Regions from separate parts of the Homo sapiens genome. Here regions 1 and 3 are each linked to region 2. The links come from fine-mapping of genetic effects on gene expression. A gene starts in region 2. Each other region holds a variant in brackets. All regions are shown on one strand. Distances are from middle to middle.

Region 1 (5,226 bases), 21 kb after region 2:
ATTTATGCAGCCAGTAGAGACCAACTTCTTAGGGACTGGGTAGGTTGGAGGAGGATGGACAGTGGATCAAGAGGGGTAAATAGATGATACGCCGCACAAGCAACTTCTTAGAGTCACACACCTTCTAGTGTTAGAGTTCAGATTCAAATTCAAATCTCTTTAAAGTCAGATCATACCGTGCACCCTTCCGTTTCCTGACAATCTAACAATCCAGTGAGAGACACACTTATATTTCTACTTCGTAAAGGTCCAGAGAGGTTAAGTAAATAAACCAGAGTCACACAGCTAGCAAGTGGCAAAGCTGGGATTCTAATTCAATTCCAAAACTTGACTTCCAACCTCTCCACCTCCATCGACCCATATATATCCACTGACCAATCTATTCATTCATCAGACTTTTACTGCATGTCTTAAGCTATGCACTGTGTTCAGAGCGGAATGAGATTCCATTCTTTTCTTTTCTTTTCTTTTCTTTTCTTTTCTTTTCTTTTCTTTTCTTTTCTTTCTTTCTTTCTTTCTTTCTTTCTTTCTTTCTTTCTTTCTTTCTTTCTTTCTTTTTCTTTCTTTCTTTCTTTCTTTCATCTTTCCATCTTTTTTTTTTGTTGACAGATTCCAGATTCTCCCTCTGTTGCCCAGGCTGGCTGGAGTGGAGTGGCATGATCTTGGCTCACTGCAATCTCTGCCTCCCAAGTTCAAGCAATTCTCCTGCCTCAGCCTCCCGAGTAGCTGGGATTACAGGTGTCCACCACCATACCTGGCTAATTTTTATATTTTTAATAGAGACGGGGTTTCATCCTGTTGGCCAGGCTGGTCTTGAACTCCTGACCTCAGGTAGTTTGCTCGCCTCGGCCTCCCAAAGTGCTGAGATTATAGGTGTGAGCCACTATGCCTGGCCAAGATGCCATTCTTATGTCCTCATGTTATTTACAGTCTGATGAAAGAAACGGACCTGTATACAGATTATCGTGCAGTGGAGGGGAACAGGAGCTTTAAGAGAGGAAAGTATAGTGCTCATCGGTGGGCATGTGGGAGGGAGAGGTCTGCTCAACTGGGGGAGCCTGGAAAGGCAGCATCCTTTTAAGCTGGGTTTTGAAGGATGCATAAGATCCCAAGGGGATGGTGCATCTTGGGAAGGTATGCTCATATCTTTTTAACCCAGCTGCCTCTCCTTTGCTGGAGCTTCCTCCTTCCAGGGCATGATTTGGAAGGACAGAGTTTTACTGTTATTGAGGACACAGAGTTCTCTAAAGTGCATAGCCCAGGGGATGGAATGGAGCAGGGGATGTATGTATGTGTGGAAAAAATCCACCTTGGTTTGAATTCTTGTCTGGCCATTTCTGAAATACATGACCTTATGGGGACCCTTCCCTATGTGGTCATCTCTACAGGAGATTTCATATCCCTACCCAACTGGTGTCAGGTTGGCCAGGTGACTTTCAGCCAATGGGATGAAAGTGAGTGGAGGTGGTATGTGCCACTTTTTGGCAGACACTGTAAGAACCCTTGTGTGGTCACCTTTTCCCTTCCCTCTTTGTGACACTATGGTAATTTTTACTATTTCCTAAGTGTTGTGCTTCACCTTCCCTTTTTACCTTGGCCTTGAGACCATCAGGTTTCCATAAGGGAGTTGCTCCCTTTGCCTTCATCCTGGAATGAAGTGAGGAGGGGCAGAGCAAAAACAGAGCTACAAGGGTTTGTCAGATTGCAGAGGAATGAATGATTGCTATCTAAGCCACCGAGACCTTTGAAGGCACCTGTTAGCATCACATAGTGTAGCCTAAGATGACCAAAACAGCAAGGTGTGTTGCCTTTCTGTGTGTTAGTTTGCTCAACTGTAGAAGTGCATTGATAGTTGTAGTTACCTTATGGAGGTCTGGTGAAGATTAGGTGGAATTCCTAAGTAAAAGTGCAGTTTCTAGCCTATAGTGTGTCTACACTTCGCAAATGTCTAAGACTCTTCTTCCAGTTCCTTGTCTCTGCTGTACTTACTTCTACCCCAGGGCCTGTGCACATCCATGCTGTTCTCTTTGCCGGGGGTATTCTGTCTTTCCCTCGTTCCCTTCTTTACTCAAAATCCCATATGCAGACCTAGCTCCTCCAGGAGGTCAGCTAAGGATGGGCTTGGAGCTCAGGAAAGTCAGGTCATGAAAGGGATGAAAAAGGTTGCACTTCAACAACCAGAATCAGGAAATCTAGAAAACAGTTCCTTTAACATCAACATGCACACATATTTTGGGTTTTATGGTTTTGCATTGTTTTAATTTCAGTTTACATAGGAGATTGCAGAGGGGGCTCCCTCATCTTTTCTAAGCTTAAGGCTTCTGAAGATCTTTACCTGTTCCTGTCCACAGATAGCAGGGCT[G/T]GGAGAAAGGGATGGGGAGAGTCCCTCCTGCCACTGACCCAGGATGGATAAAAGTACCCCTTTCATAGAAGGAAGAAAATGGGAACAAAGGTGCTGCTGATCATCTGAGGTTGCCTGCATGGCAGTGAAGAACATGGACCTTTGGGTGAGGCTACCTGGATTTAATTGTTGGTTCTGCCATTTACCAGCTATATGAGCTTGGGTGTGTCATTCTTTACCACTGAGCCTCACTTTTTACATTCATAAAATGGGAATAATTATACCAGCTTGCTGGGTCATGGTGAGGACAACTAAGGCGAGTGCCCATAGTGAAGCCTATATAAAGATGGCTGATTGTTCGGTCATTCCTTATTTATTGAATGTCTGCTATGTGCCAAGTTCCATGAGAGGCACTGGAGATGCAGAGATGACCAGGACAGACTAGATCCTTGCTCTCAAGATTATGTATTTGTAAATAAACATATAATGAGTCAGATTGCAGCAAGGGATATGGAGAAAAAAGTCAGGGTAACTGTGGAAAGTAACGGTGGATCAGATTTTATTTTATTTGGACATAATTGACAAATAGATTGACCAATACCCAAATATAATTGGGTAATGTTTAAGGGGTACAACTTGATGCTGTAATATACATATATGTTGTGAAATGATCCTTATAGTCAAGCTATTTGACACGTTCATCGCCTCACATAATTGTCTTTTTTTGTGGTGAAACCTACCCTCTTAGCAAATTTCAAATATATATTATTAACTGTAATCATTATGCCATACATTAGATCTCCAGAACTCATCCATCTTGCTTAATTGAAACTTTGTACCCTTTGACCAACATCTCATTTCCCTGTCCCTCCAACCTCTGGCAACCAGTATTTTAGTCTATGTCTCTATGCTTTGACTCTTTTAGATTCCAAATATAGGTGAGGTCATACAGTATTTATCTTTCTGTGTCAGACAAATTCTGTTTTAGAAAGCGAATTCAGAAAAGACTTCTCTAAGGAGGTGACATTTGAACAGGGACCCATGCACCAACGCTACATAACAAATGGCCACAAACTGAAAGCAGCATATATTTATTATCTTACTGTGTCTGAGGGCCAAGAACCTAGGCTGTGTCCTCTGCTTCAGAATCTCCTCTAAAACCTATAGTCAAAGTATTGGTTGGGGCTGTAGCCTCACTTGAAACTCAACCGGGGAAGGATCCACTTCCAAACTCATGGGGTTGTTGGCAGAATTCAGTTCCTTGTGGGCTGTAAGACTGAGGGCCTCAGTTTCTTGCTGGCTATAAGATGGAAGCAGCCCTCACTGCCTGGCTGTTTGTTGGCCAGAGGCTACTGCACATGGCCCACCCCAGTGTGGCTGCTTGCTTCATCAAAGCCAGCAAGGAGAGTCTCCTAGCAAGATGGGCATTAATTACAGTCTTATATGATGTAGTCATGAGAGCAGCCTCCTGTCCCCTTTATTGTATTCTTTCCTCTGTGGGTTTTTTTTTTTTTTTTTGAGATGGAATAATCTTGCTGTGCCACTCAGGCTGGACTGCAGTGGTGCAATCACGGCTCACTGCAACCTCCACCTCCCGGGTTCAAGTGATTCTCCTGCCTCAGCCTCCTGAGTAACTGGGATTGCAGGCATGCACGACCACACTGGGCTAATTTTTTTGTATTTTTAGTAGACACAGGGTTTCACCATGCTGGCTAGGCTGGTCTCCAACTGCTGACCTCAAGTGATCTGCCTGCCTCAGCCTCCCAAAGTGCTGGGATTACAGGCATGAGTCACCATGCTGGGTCCTCTTTATTGTATTCTATTGATTAGAAGCAAGCTCTTGGTCCTGCCCATATGTAAGGGTGGAGGTTATACAAATGGGTAAATACTGAGAGGTGGGGGGCATTGGGAGCCCCTTTGAGTCTATCTGCCATGGCCTATGTGAGGTAGATGGAGTGAGCAGAGTGGAGACCTGACCTGCCAGGTAGAGGGAGACAGCAGGAGCAAAGGCCCTGAGGTGGGATCCTGCTTGATGTGTTCAAAGATCAGCAAGGAGCTGAATGAGAGAGGGGAGGATAACTCATGTAGGGCCTTGTAGGTAAGAGCTTGTCTTTTGGATTTTATTCTTGGGCGTGCTGAGGAGCTACTGGGTGGTTTCCCAGTCCATCTATTTATTTATGTTCCTAGATTTTAAGAGTTGTGGTGAAAGACACATAACCTAAAATTTGCCATTTTAACCTTTCTAAAGTGGACAATTCAGTGGCCTTTAGTCCATTCACAAGGTTGTATAAGCATCATCACTATCTGGTTCCAGAACATTTTCATTACCCTGAAAGGAAATCCCACAACTATTAGCAGTCACTCCCCCTTGCCTCCTTCCCGCAAAACCTAGGCAACCACTAATCAGCTTTCTGTCTCTATCAGTTTGACTATTCTGGGTATTTCATATAAATGGAATTGTACAATACATGCTTGGCTTCTTTCACTTAGCATGTTTTCAAGGTTCATCCATGTTGTCGCATGTATCAGTATTTCATTCTTTTTTTTTTTTGAGACAGAGTCTCGCTCTGTCGCCCAGGCTGGAGTGCAGTGGTGCGATCTCGGCTCACTGCAACCTCCGCCTCCTGGATTCACGCCATTCTCCTGCCTCAGCCTCCTGTGTAACTGGGACTACAGGCGCCTGCCACCACGCCCGGCTAATTTTTTATATTTTTAGTAGAGTTGGGGTTTCACCGTGTTAGCCAGGATGGTCTCGATCTCCTGAGCTCGTGATCCGCCTGCCTCAGCCTCCCAAAGCGCTGGGATTACAGGCGTGAGCCACCGCGCCCGGCCTATTTCATTCATTTTTATGGCTAAATAATATTTCATTGAATGTATATATCACA
Region 2 (5,226 bases):
GGGAGGTGGCAGCATTTCATGGCCTCCGTAGTAACTCACAATGCTTCCTGGGGTATTTAAATTCTACTCTCTCATCAGCACTGAGCACCTACTTTGGGCCCTTTCCCGTGCTAGCCATTTGGGGGAAATATAGGTGAAGAGTGGCTGGGGTTTGAACCTTTAGGATTTCACAGCCATGCTGGATGGGATAAAACCAGCTCACATGGAGAATCAGAGAATGGGACAGTGCCACAAAACAGTCTACTGAGGCACAAGTTCTGAGTGCCTGGGAAGTGGTAGAGAGACCCCAGAGAGGGCTGCTGCAGTCTGGAACAGCTTCCTAGCAAGCTGTACCAAACAGGGCCTTGAAGGATGAGAAAGATCTGGCTGAGATGATACCCGACCCTCTAGGGAAATTCTTAAAGTAACTTCTAGGAAATGTCATTGCTCCTTAAAAAAAAAAAAAAAAAAAAAAAAGCAGGTTCTAATTCAAATTCCGCTGCACTACTGAAGTAGTGCAGGACTTATCAGAACCTTTAAAATGCTAATGGCAATTTCAAATACTCAGGGACAGGGCATAGGATGAAGTGTTCCTTGACTTTTATGGCCGTAGAATCTTTTTCTCATGGAACATCGTTTAGAACTGTGGGAGATGCTAGGCTGGGGTTTCTATGGGAAAAGTACAGCAGTGATAGAAGATGGCATAATTAGGGTACACTTAGGTGCTTTGTAGCATTGGCTGAAAAGGAAGCAGACCGGGTGGGCGTGGGGGAGTCTCAACTTGGTTCCAGGAGCCAGGCCAGCTTGATGCGTTTTTTTTTTTTCTAATGGTGGGAGGGCAGGCCAATAGTTGGAGAAACTAGAGGCCTGACAGTCGGTGATGGAAGAGATGTCTACTAAGCACGGTTGTCAGATCTTTTGCGGAGAGATGCGGGTGTGCGTGTGTCTGTCAGAGTGTAACAGGATCCAGCCCTCTGGGAAGGGGCTGACCAGAACCAGGCAGGGGGTTTCTGTCTAGGACAAGTAGGGTCCATTTTCAGGGGAGCTGAAATATTTGCAGGGGGTGCTCTGAGACCCACAGCCAATAAATAGGGAAGCAACATGCTTTTGGGCAGGGTCCATGTGGTTAGGGTTGATTTTGATGGGGCTGGGGGGCTTAGAGTTAGACCCCCTGCCCTGGTCAGGCCCCACTCCCTGGCTGGTGGGGGCGGGAGGCCTCTGAAGCTGCAGCTGGAGGGGCCGGGGCAGTGTTGCATGGTGTGATTAACCTACTAACCCAGGGCTCAGCCGGGACGCTGTGGCGTGTGACGAGGTGCCTGGCCTTCTGCCAACCAACTAACCCACTAACCAGGCCCGAGCATGCCCTACTAACCACCCCCCCGCAGCCAGATCCTACTAACTGTGCAGCTCATGGGCCTTTCAAGGGGCTGGGATATGGGGGCAGCCAAGGCTCCAGAAGGCTCTGCCTATGGGCTGGGATCTTTGTGCAGACCCACGTTCCAGGACAGAGAATGCAAATAAGACTCACCAACTCTGCCACTTCCTGTTGAGTGAGTTTGAGTAAGTCACCTCACTTCTCTCAACCTCAGTTTCCTCAGTGGTAGAATGCGAGTTCTGATACCTTACAGGTTGCAGTGAGGATTCCCGTCAATATAAGGGTCTCAGCACATGGCAGACACCTAAAAAAAAAAAAAGTATGAGGATGGAGGAAGGCCCCTCAAACCTGGTTGAACACGTCTGCTGCCTAGGCCCTGGCCTCTCTGGGTGTTCTGCACACAGATCCTTCTGCCTGGGGCAAGACACTTGGCTTTGAATCCATGTCACTTCCCCACATTCTTCCTCCGTCTCAGCTTTCTTTTCTGTAGGCAGCTCTTTTGTTCGATTACTAACCCGTCTAACCCCTGGGGTGCCTCAACTGCACCCCGATCATCCCTTAACAAACTAACGGACCTGCGTGCGTTCTTCCTTTTCTCTTAGCGACTCCTGTGTGTGTCTGCTGAGGTGCCCTGTCCGCTGGTGCTGTGCTCTGACTTACTAACCCAGCCCCTACTAACCCTGTTTTCTCTTCTTACTAACCCCAGCCCTGCCGAGCTCTGGGCTCCCCCCGGGGGCTGGTCCCCCTCCTTTTGGCAAGCAGATGACCTGGGGCTACTGGCCCTGTAGACAGATGTCCCACTTTGCTGCCCCATATTGGCTGTAAGATCAGAGTCCACTGGGCCAGGTCTAAGGCAGGGGATGGCCCTATTAACAAGACTCAGAGGAGGAAGAGGTGGTCCTGTGGATGTGGGAGGCTGGACTCTGAGTATGACATCTCTCCTATGTGCAGAAGTCTGGTTGCCACTGGGAGTAGGTGGGACCAGGGAAATCTCTGGGACGTGAGTGTGGAGGCCTGTTGGTCTAGACTCTAGACTGTGGAGCTCTGAGCTTTTGTGTCCTCTGGAAGGAAGCTGGGGAAGAATCCTCTCCATTGTTAAGTGACGGGGATAGAAGCTGTCCTGCACAGGAAGTCACGAGGGGGGCGTATCCCACGAGGAAGGCAGGAGGGGGCGTGCCCCTCACCGGAAATTAGCAGAGGGGCGTGTCCCACACCGGAAGTCAGAAAGCGGAGCCTTTCTTACACCGGAAGTCAATGAAGCGGGTCTTTCCTACGCTAAAAACCACTGAGTGGAGTATTTAGTACACAGGAAGTCGGCCAGAGAAACATTTCTCATATTTGAAGGCCGGAAAGAGGGACATTTCTGACACCGGAAGTCAGTGAGAGGACTCTTTCCCACACAGGAAGTCAGCTAGAGAGCCGTCTCCCCTCTCTGGAGCCGAGAGAGGCCGGTTTCCCCCACCGTAAGTAGACGTGGGGCCGTGACCGGAAGTCCTTGGGAAAGATCCGTCCCATTCCCGGAAGCTAGAGGGCGTTAGTTGTCGGGTTGAAAAGGGGTGTGGGGAGGGGAAGCAGCTTTACCCCGGGCTCGGAGTTTGCAGGAGAGAGAAGTGGGGAGCAAGAAGTGAACCTCAGGGGCTCACAGGGTTCCCGCAGATGCTCAGGCCGGCCAGGAATGCATCTCTGGCTCTCTGTTCCCACGGACGTCACTGCCTCAGCCAGCCTCCCCCAGAGCCCGCCAGCCGCTAAGCCGGGGCCACACCTGGGGGTGATTTCATGCCTCACCTCCAGTAGGCACCTTGGTTTCTTTGGGCTAATCTCTGGCTCCCTTGCGCTAACTCTTGCTCTCACCCAGCTAATCCCTGCCTCACCCTGACTGCCCCAGGGGCTGACCACTAACAACCAACCTGGCCCTGTCTGGGGGTTCCAGGCTCCTGGCCTGGCCCTGACCGGTTCTTAATTAACCTTTCCTTCACCTTGACTAACTCCTGCCTTCCTGGTCTGTTCCTTTCAGCAGAAACTAATGGTTTGTGGATTTTTTTCTGACTAACAACAGGTCTAACATTCCTCGTTACTGTTAACAGCTTGGATGTCGGCATGGCTGGGAAGGGGCTAACACAGCTTTGAACTTGGCTAACACAGGTTTGAACTTGGCTAACACAGGTTTGAACTTGACTAACACAGGGAAAAGCATAGCTAACAATTTTGGGCGTGGTGGCTGCTCTGAGTCAGAACAATCAGAAGTCGGTAAAGATGGTAGTTTTCTAAAGGAGGTGCCAGGGCTCTGGTGTGGACCAGGCCTGATGGAGCAGTGGTACCCACCAAGGTGGGGTCAGAAGTATAGCCAGTCTTGCAAGGTTTTGGCCATTGGGCATATCTTCACTCCTCATAGTCTGCATTTGGTTTCAGTTCTTAAAAAAATATAGCCTTATAGCTACAGTAGTTTGCACAAGTAGATGCAGCTCTTATAAACCTTAAAATACCTGTCTGGTGTCTACAGAGCATATGCCATTTTGTATAGAGTCACCCTTCCCCAGGCCAGGGCCTAGAGTCTTCATTTTGGGGACTTTGTGTTTTGGAAGTTCTAGGACATAAAGCTTTAGATCAGAGTATTCAGAAGGGTTATAACTCCGTCAGTCATTTACATGTTAGTAGTATAAATTATCTGAGCTTCCTGTTCTAACTTTTAGCTCTTCTAGCATAAACTCTTCTGTGCAATTTAGCTGCACCGAGGAAACGGGAGTTTTTCTGGAAGGGACTTTTGATCTCTTTAGACTGAGGGAACGTCCTTTGGGAGTAGAGGGGCAGGGAGCATACGCAAGGGATTCCAGGTGCAGGTAAAAGGTGGCACTAGTTCAAGGTTTTGCTGACTCAGTCTGGTAGTCAGAGTCTGCAGGAGAAGACAGTTCAAGGCAGGGCCTGGAGGATTGGATCAGTTTAGGGACAGGTCAAAGGCTGGCTTACAGACCTTAGAGGCAGGTTGCTTGGGTCGTTGAATGCTAGTCTGGTGCTGAGAGCCCTTTTCTCTGGCAACTGTGGACTCAGAGCTAACCAATTGTAGTTGGCAGTGGGGGTGAAGGGTGATCCAGAGGCCTGAGCTGCAGAGGGCACAAGAGAGAAAAGATGTCTTAGAAAGAGCTTTGAGAACATGCCTTGGCTGCTGGCAGGGACCTTGGATGGGGTAGTCTACACCCGGAAGTGCCTGCCTGCCATCCTCTAGTGGCTGCCTTGCTCCATTTCACTCAAAGCAGGAAGCTCACACCTCCTATTCCTGAAACTCCTCTTTGTTTAACTGCAAAGACTTGATGCTGCTAAGGATCTACTATGTGCCAGGCACTGCTCTGGGCGCTGGGACCTGCACCTGGGCTTTTTCGTCATGGTGCTTTTATAGCCTAGTGGGAGAGTTGGTGAAGTAGATAGTGATTCAGTGAGATGGGTGTTATGATTGGTCAGGGGTCTGTGGGAGCACCAAGGAGACAGACAAGATTGATGTGCACCTACTCTGTGCCAGGCGTGTGCCAGGCATTGGGGATGTAGTGGTAGTTAAACACCATTTGGTCTTCAGGAGCTTTAATTCTAGTGTGTTGGGTGCAGGGGGGTGGAATGGGGACAGAGAGACACCTAATCCACCCTGTGGTGGCTTTCTGGAGAGGGAGGCATCTAAGCTGAGCTGTGGCTGGGTGGAGTGTGGGTGGGGATGAGTTCCGGGCAGCGAGAGTGGTGGACACCAGTTTCTGGGGATCAGAGAGGATCCAAAGAGGTTCTGGAAGGTTCATGTGGAATGTAGCAAGAGATAGGAGACATGGACATGGTGCCGGGTCTGGTTGCCAAGAAGTTTAGATTTTATCCTTAGGCCTTGGGGAGCGACGGAT
Region 3 (5,226 bases), 76 kb after region 2:
CTGTATCTTTATCTTATTTAGAAGGTAAAACAGCCACAGGACCTTTTCAATGACAATTCCTTGCCATTTTCCTCCCAGGGTCACCTTCCAGCCGCAAAGCCACAACACTCCCACTTCCTTTGCCTCCCTTGGCTCTCACAGAGCTTGGCTAAATCCAGTGCTAAGACTGAGTTGTCAAACAGGAGATAGAAAGAGAGAAAAAGCAATTTCTTCCATTTCTTGGCTCAATCCTATGCAGTCAATACTGTTAACAGTAAATCAAATAACAAGACTGCATTGACCCAGGAAAAGGCCAAGAAGAAAAAAATTCAGAGCAGAATCCAAAAAAGTAGAAAATAAAGTTCGGCCATAGGCATAAATCATACCTGGAGAACTGAGCCCACAGCACCAGCCTCAGGATGAGCCTGAGCTGCCCCCGAAAGCTGGGTCCCAAAGACCCCTGCTTTTGACTTTCAACTTTCTAGGACCCCTGTTTCTGGTAGATCCAGGGGAAAGGAGATCGCTCAGGGACGGGTTGAGGATATCTGATTTGCGGTCCCTCTGATTTGGGATGTCACTCCTCAACCCTGGGCTGAACTGGGAAAGGGGATCTGCAGAAAATGACTTTGGGAGAAAGTCCCCTTTGACTGCTCCCCTAACCCCTGCATTCCTTCTGGCATGCTGATCTTTTCAAGTTTCACAGTGCTGGATGCCGGCTCCAAAAAGAAAGAGGTTCACATGCTCTAAAAAGTATTCAATCTTGTCTGAGCCATGTTGCTGCCTGAACTATGGCTTCTTTAAATTAATGGAGTCATTCAACAAACATTTATGAAGCACCCACTGTATGCCAGGCATTGTTCTAAGGCCTTGGGGATTTAGCTGGGAACAAAATAGACACACATTCCTCACTTCACTGAAGCTACATCCTAGTGAGTGGTGGAAGATGATAAAACAAGGTTTGTATACTATGTTGGACAGTAATAGATGCTATGAGGAAACAAAGAAGGTAAAATGGGTTTCGTGTGTTTGTTGGGGATGGGGAGAGTCCAGTTTAGTTAAGGAAAAGAGACATTTGAGCAAAGACTTCAAAGGAGGCGAGGATGTGAGCCGTGGGGGTATCTGGGAGAAGGGTGTTTCAGGGACAGGGATCAGCAGGTGCAAAGGCTCTGAGGCAGGACGTGCTGGGGGCCTTTTGAAAAAAAGTGAGATATTACTGGAGGAAGTGAAGGGAGAGGGTGGCAGATGGTGAGGTCCAAGTTGGAGAGGTGACCAAGGGACCAGATTCTGTAGGGCCTCTGGGTGGATGCAGGGACTTTGGCTTTCCTCTAGGTGAAGTGTGGATTGTTGGGAAATTTGGAGCTGCAAAGGGACCTAATCTATTGGGTTTTAGCAATAAATGTTTACTTGTCAGTTTCTTCAGCCATGTGCTCTGACTAGTTAAGGTCATTAAAAAAATAGATGGAATTGCATGGGAATTTGTACATCCCTGAGAAGCACTCTCTGTGAAAATAACCTCCGATGCCCTGGCACATTCTTGGCTCTCAATAAATGCTCAAACATATTATTTGACCATAGAGAGAGGTCAGGATGGATGTTCAACAAAGAGTTAATGGTGCTTCCTTGGGAGAGTAGCTGGAATGAGTGTGGCAAGTAAAGGTTAATTATCTCTTTTATTTCTCTTTGTATTCATCAGATTGTTTTTTCAATTTTTATAGCTTTTTTGTTTTTTGAGATGGAATCTCACTCTGTTGGCCAGACTGGAGTGCAGTGGCGCAATCTCGGCTCACTGCAACCTCTGCCTCTCAGGTTCAAGTGATTCTCCTGCCTCAGCCTCCCAAGTAGCCGGGACTATAGGGGAGCACCACCACGCCCACCTAATTTTTGTATTTTTTGGTAGAGACGGGGTTTCACCATATAGGACAGTCTGGTCTCGAACTCCTGACCTCGTGATCTGTCCACCTCGGCCTCCCAAAGTGCTGGGATTACAGGCATGAGCCATTGTGCCTGGCCTATAGCTTTTTTTTTTTTTAAGGCAAGTTGAATGGGTGGGTGAAGACTAGGAGCTCTGTTTTGAGTTCTGTGACCTTGGTTCTGCCACTTGTGATTCTGAGCATTCATTTGCTCATATTTTTCACGAGTTAAAACTCTAAACTCTAATAGCTGCTTATGAAGTTTTAGGGGGGATAACAATGTAAATGGAATACGTTGTTCAGTGCCTGGCATAGAAATCAACGCTGATTTTAGTTTGCAAGGAGCCATGTAAGGTTTTTAAGGAGAGAAGTGAAGGCAAAAGATCTGGGTTTTAGAAAAAAGGATCACAGGGGTGTCCGTGCTAGTCTCCAACTACTGCTCTGAGCAAGCTTGGCCTCCTCCCTCTCCCTGGGCAGCTAGGGGCAGCTGGCCATTCCTTCTCCCCTTGATTTCCCTACCCCAGCCTAGTCTTCTCCACCCTTCCTGGGGAAAGCCAACCCCTTGCCTGGCAGGCCTCCC[G/A]GCAACCAAAGGACTTCTTTGAGGGAAGAAGCCACGTTACCCAGAAAAAATCAATAGAATCTTTTTCCAGGCAAATTTCAGAGACTTGTGAGAAGCAGCAGCAGCCTGGGAACTTGTCTCCCATTCAGCGTAGGAACCTCTTGCACAGCATTTGGCTATGAGGCCCTCAAAGTGGACACGTGTTCGTATCTCCTTTTCAGCAACTGCCCCGCTTTCTGGTAACAGCATGCCATCTTCCTTGAAAAGCCACCCTTGGCCATGCCAAGCCCAACAACATGGGTAGAGGTGACTCCTTCTCCTCCCTCACTGGAGGTAGGCATGGCCAGTGAACCAGGTCTGAGCCAATCGAGTACTGCTGCCCTCAGCCTACAGTGATTGATTCAGAGATGAGACTCAAGGAGGGCCAGCCGCAGGATTTTGGTTCAGTCTGATGATGTAACAGTCAGAGTGGACTGTGATATGCTGCAATATAACTAATACCTCCTAAATTCTCAGTTACAGTGACTCAGGTTTTTAAAAATTTTTTTTATTAATTTATTAATTTTATTTTTTATTTCAATTGGTTTTTGGGGAGCAGATGGTGTTTGGTTACATGAATAAGTTTTTAATGGTGATTTCTGAGATTTTGGTGCACCCCTCACCCCAGCAGTCTACATTATACCCAATGTGTAGTCTTTTATCCCTCACCCCCTCCCACCCTTTCCCGTGAGTCCGCAAAATTCATTCTGTCATTTTTATCCCTTTGTGTCCTCAAAGCTAACCTATCACTTGTAAGTGTGGAATGTTTGGTTTCCCATTCCTGAGTTACTTCACTTAGAATAATGGTCTCAAATGCCATCCAGGTTGCTGTGAATGCTTCGATTTTATTCCTGTTTATGGCCGAGTAGTATTCCATGGTGTATATATATCTATATATCACCTTTTCTTTATCCGCTCGTTGATTGATGGTCATTTGGGCTAGTTCCATATTTTTGCAATTGCGAATTGTGCTGCTATAAACATGTGTGGGCAAATATCTTTTTTGTATGATGACTTTCTTTTCCTCTGGCTAGATACCCAGTAGTAGGATTGCTGGATCAAATAGTAGCTCTACTTTTAGTTCTTTAAGGAATCTAGTGGCTCAGGTTTATTTTTTATTTTTTATTTTCTTATTTTTTATTTTTAGATGGAGTCTTGCTCTGCCGCCCAGGCTGGAGTGCAGTGGCACAATCTCAGCTCACTGCAACCTCCACCTTCCGGGTTCAAGCAATTCTCCTGCCTCAGCCTACCGAGTAGCTGGGACTACAGGTGTGCACCACCACGCCTGGCTAATTTTTTTTTTTTTTAATTCTAGTAAAGATGGGGTTTCACCATGTTGGCCAGGTTGGTCTCAAACTCCTGACCTCAGGTGATCCACCTACCTTGGCCTCCCAAAGTGCTGGGATTATAGGCATGAGCCACCGTGCCCAGCCTGGCTCAGGTTTTAATGGCACAGAGCAGCCAAGATTGATTTGCTGCTTGTGCTCTGTGTGCACGGTGTACGCCTCCGGGAAAAACCAAAGGGCAAAAACCAAGTCTTCACCAACCAAGCTGGTGGAGGCTCTGCTCCACATCCTTCTCATCCACAGACTCAGGCTGATGGAGACTCTATCACCTGGAACATCATCAGTTACCACCACAGGGGGGAAGGGAACGTGGAATCAGATGAGTCTGATGTCAAATCCTGACTTTGCTGTTTAAAGCAAGGGACATGCCTGACCTGCTGGGTCCATAGTTACTGCTTAGCTCCGAGAGTATTGATTTTCCCCCTGTCCAATGTCTTCAACCCTATTCATTGTGTATTCAACCAGGATTTTCAAGGCTTGACTCAAACACCTGCCATTCAGAGATTCCTTCTCAAACTCATCTCATGGCCAGCACCTCTCCGTCATCTTAGCACAGAGGGAAGCACAAAGTAGGGGCTGTGCTCAGTGCCCTGTCAGTGTCTAGCAAAGGCCTAAGCACTCAGTAGGTGCTATGCTCAGTGTCACCCAAGGTGCTTTGCAGTGTCAGGCACAATAGTGGATGTTATTCTCTGTACCATCGGCAATGCCCATCCCAGTACCAAGCACATAGTGTGCTCTTTCTTTGCTGTTTCCTTTCCCTGAGTGTTTCTAGCAGTGTGTCTCCAGGAAGTTATGCCCCAAGACACTTCCTCCAGGTCCTCAGCCTCTTGCACGTTGGGACTTGGAATGTGCCACCTGGAGCTGCTATCAGGGTGCAGTCGGCTGAAATAGGTGGGGTGAGGCAAGCAGTCCTTGAAAAGATGGTCCAGGGCTGTCCTTCCCTGTGGGGGTCATCTGGGGTCAGTGAGCAGCGACTTGGCTTATGCATTTCCTCCCAGGGCCCCAGACAAAGAGAGAGTCCTTGGCAATGCGGTTACCTTGACAACTCTTTGTGTTGGAGAGTGAGAGAGAGAGGGGGAGGAAGGCAGCTCAGGGAAGCGGGGTGGCTGCTGGGGGAGGGGGAAGGAGCAGGGAGGAGCTGGAGGAGAAATCCACCTTTAAAAGGGAAGAGAGAAATGACTCCACTTCTGGGCAGAGGGAAGGAAGTGTCTTTATGGTGCAGGATGGAGGCTGGTCTGGGTGGGACATCCTGCCTCTCCTTCTCACCCCATCTAGAAATTCTGCCAGCAGTCTTAACATCCAGAGAACTAGGTCTGAGTCCCAGCCCTTCTTCTAACTTTCTATGTGACTTTGTGCAAGTTACTTTCCCTCCCTGAATCTGAATTTCCTCTTG

What was found.
Region 1: its variant is fine-mapped to the expression of MIATNB in whole blood (INTERVAL, PIP above 0.99). The same link has a PIP of 0.9 or more in blood mononuclear cells, esophagus mucosa, lung, monocytes, monocytes after LPS and monocytes after Pam3CSK4.
Region 3: its variant is fine-mapped to the expression of MIATNB in whole blood (INTERVAL, PIP above 0.99). The same link has a PIP of 0.9 or more in sigmoid colon.

Annotation. Positions count from the first base shown.
Region 1 is chr22:26,691,330-26,696,555 of GRCh38, forward strand. The region is part of intron 1 of MIATNB (MIAT neighbor); the gene reads left to right. Among named protein-coding and RNA genes, the nearest start is that of MIATNB, 21 kb to the left of the region's middle. The variant G/T (reference allele first, on the strand shown) is at 2,363.
Region 2 is chr22:26,670,171-26,675,396 of GRCh38, forward strand. It overlaps MIATNB (MIAT neighbor), which reads left to right and starts at 2,673. Exons shown (of 6, transcript NR_110543.1): 1 at 2,673-2,817. It overlaps MIAT (myocardial infarction associated transcript), which reads left to right. Exons shown (of 5, transcript NR_033320.3): 5 at 1-5,226.
Region 3 is chr22:26,746,589-26,751,814 of GRCh38, forward strand. All of the region lies in intron 2 of MIATNB (MIAT neighbor), which reads left to right. Among named protein-coding and RNA genes, the nearest start is that of MIATNB, 76 kb to the left of the region's middle. RefSeq lists an enhancer at 4,426-5,226. The variant G/A (reference allele first, on the strand shown) is at 2,470.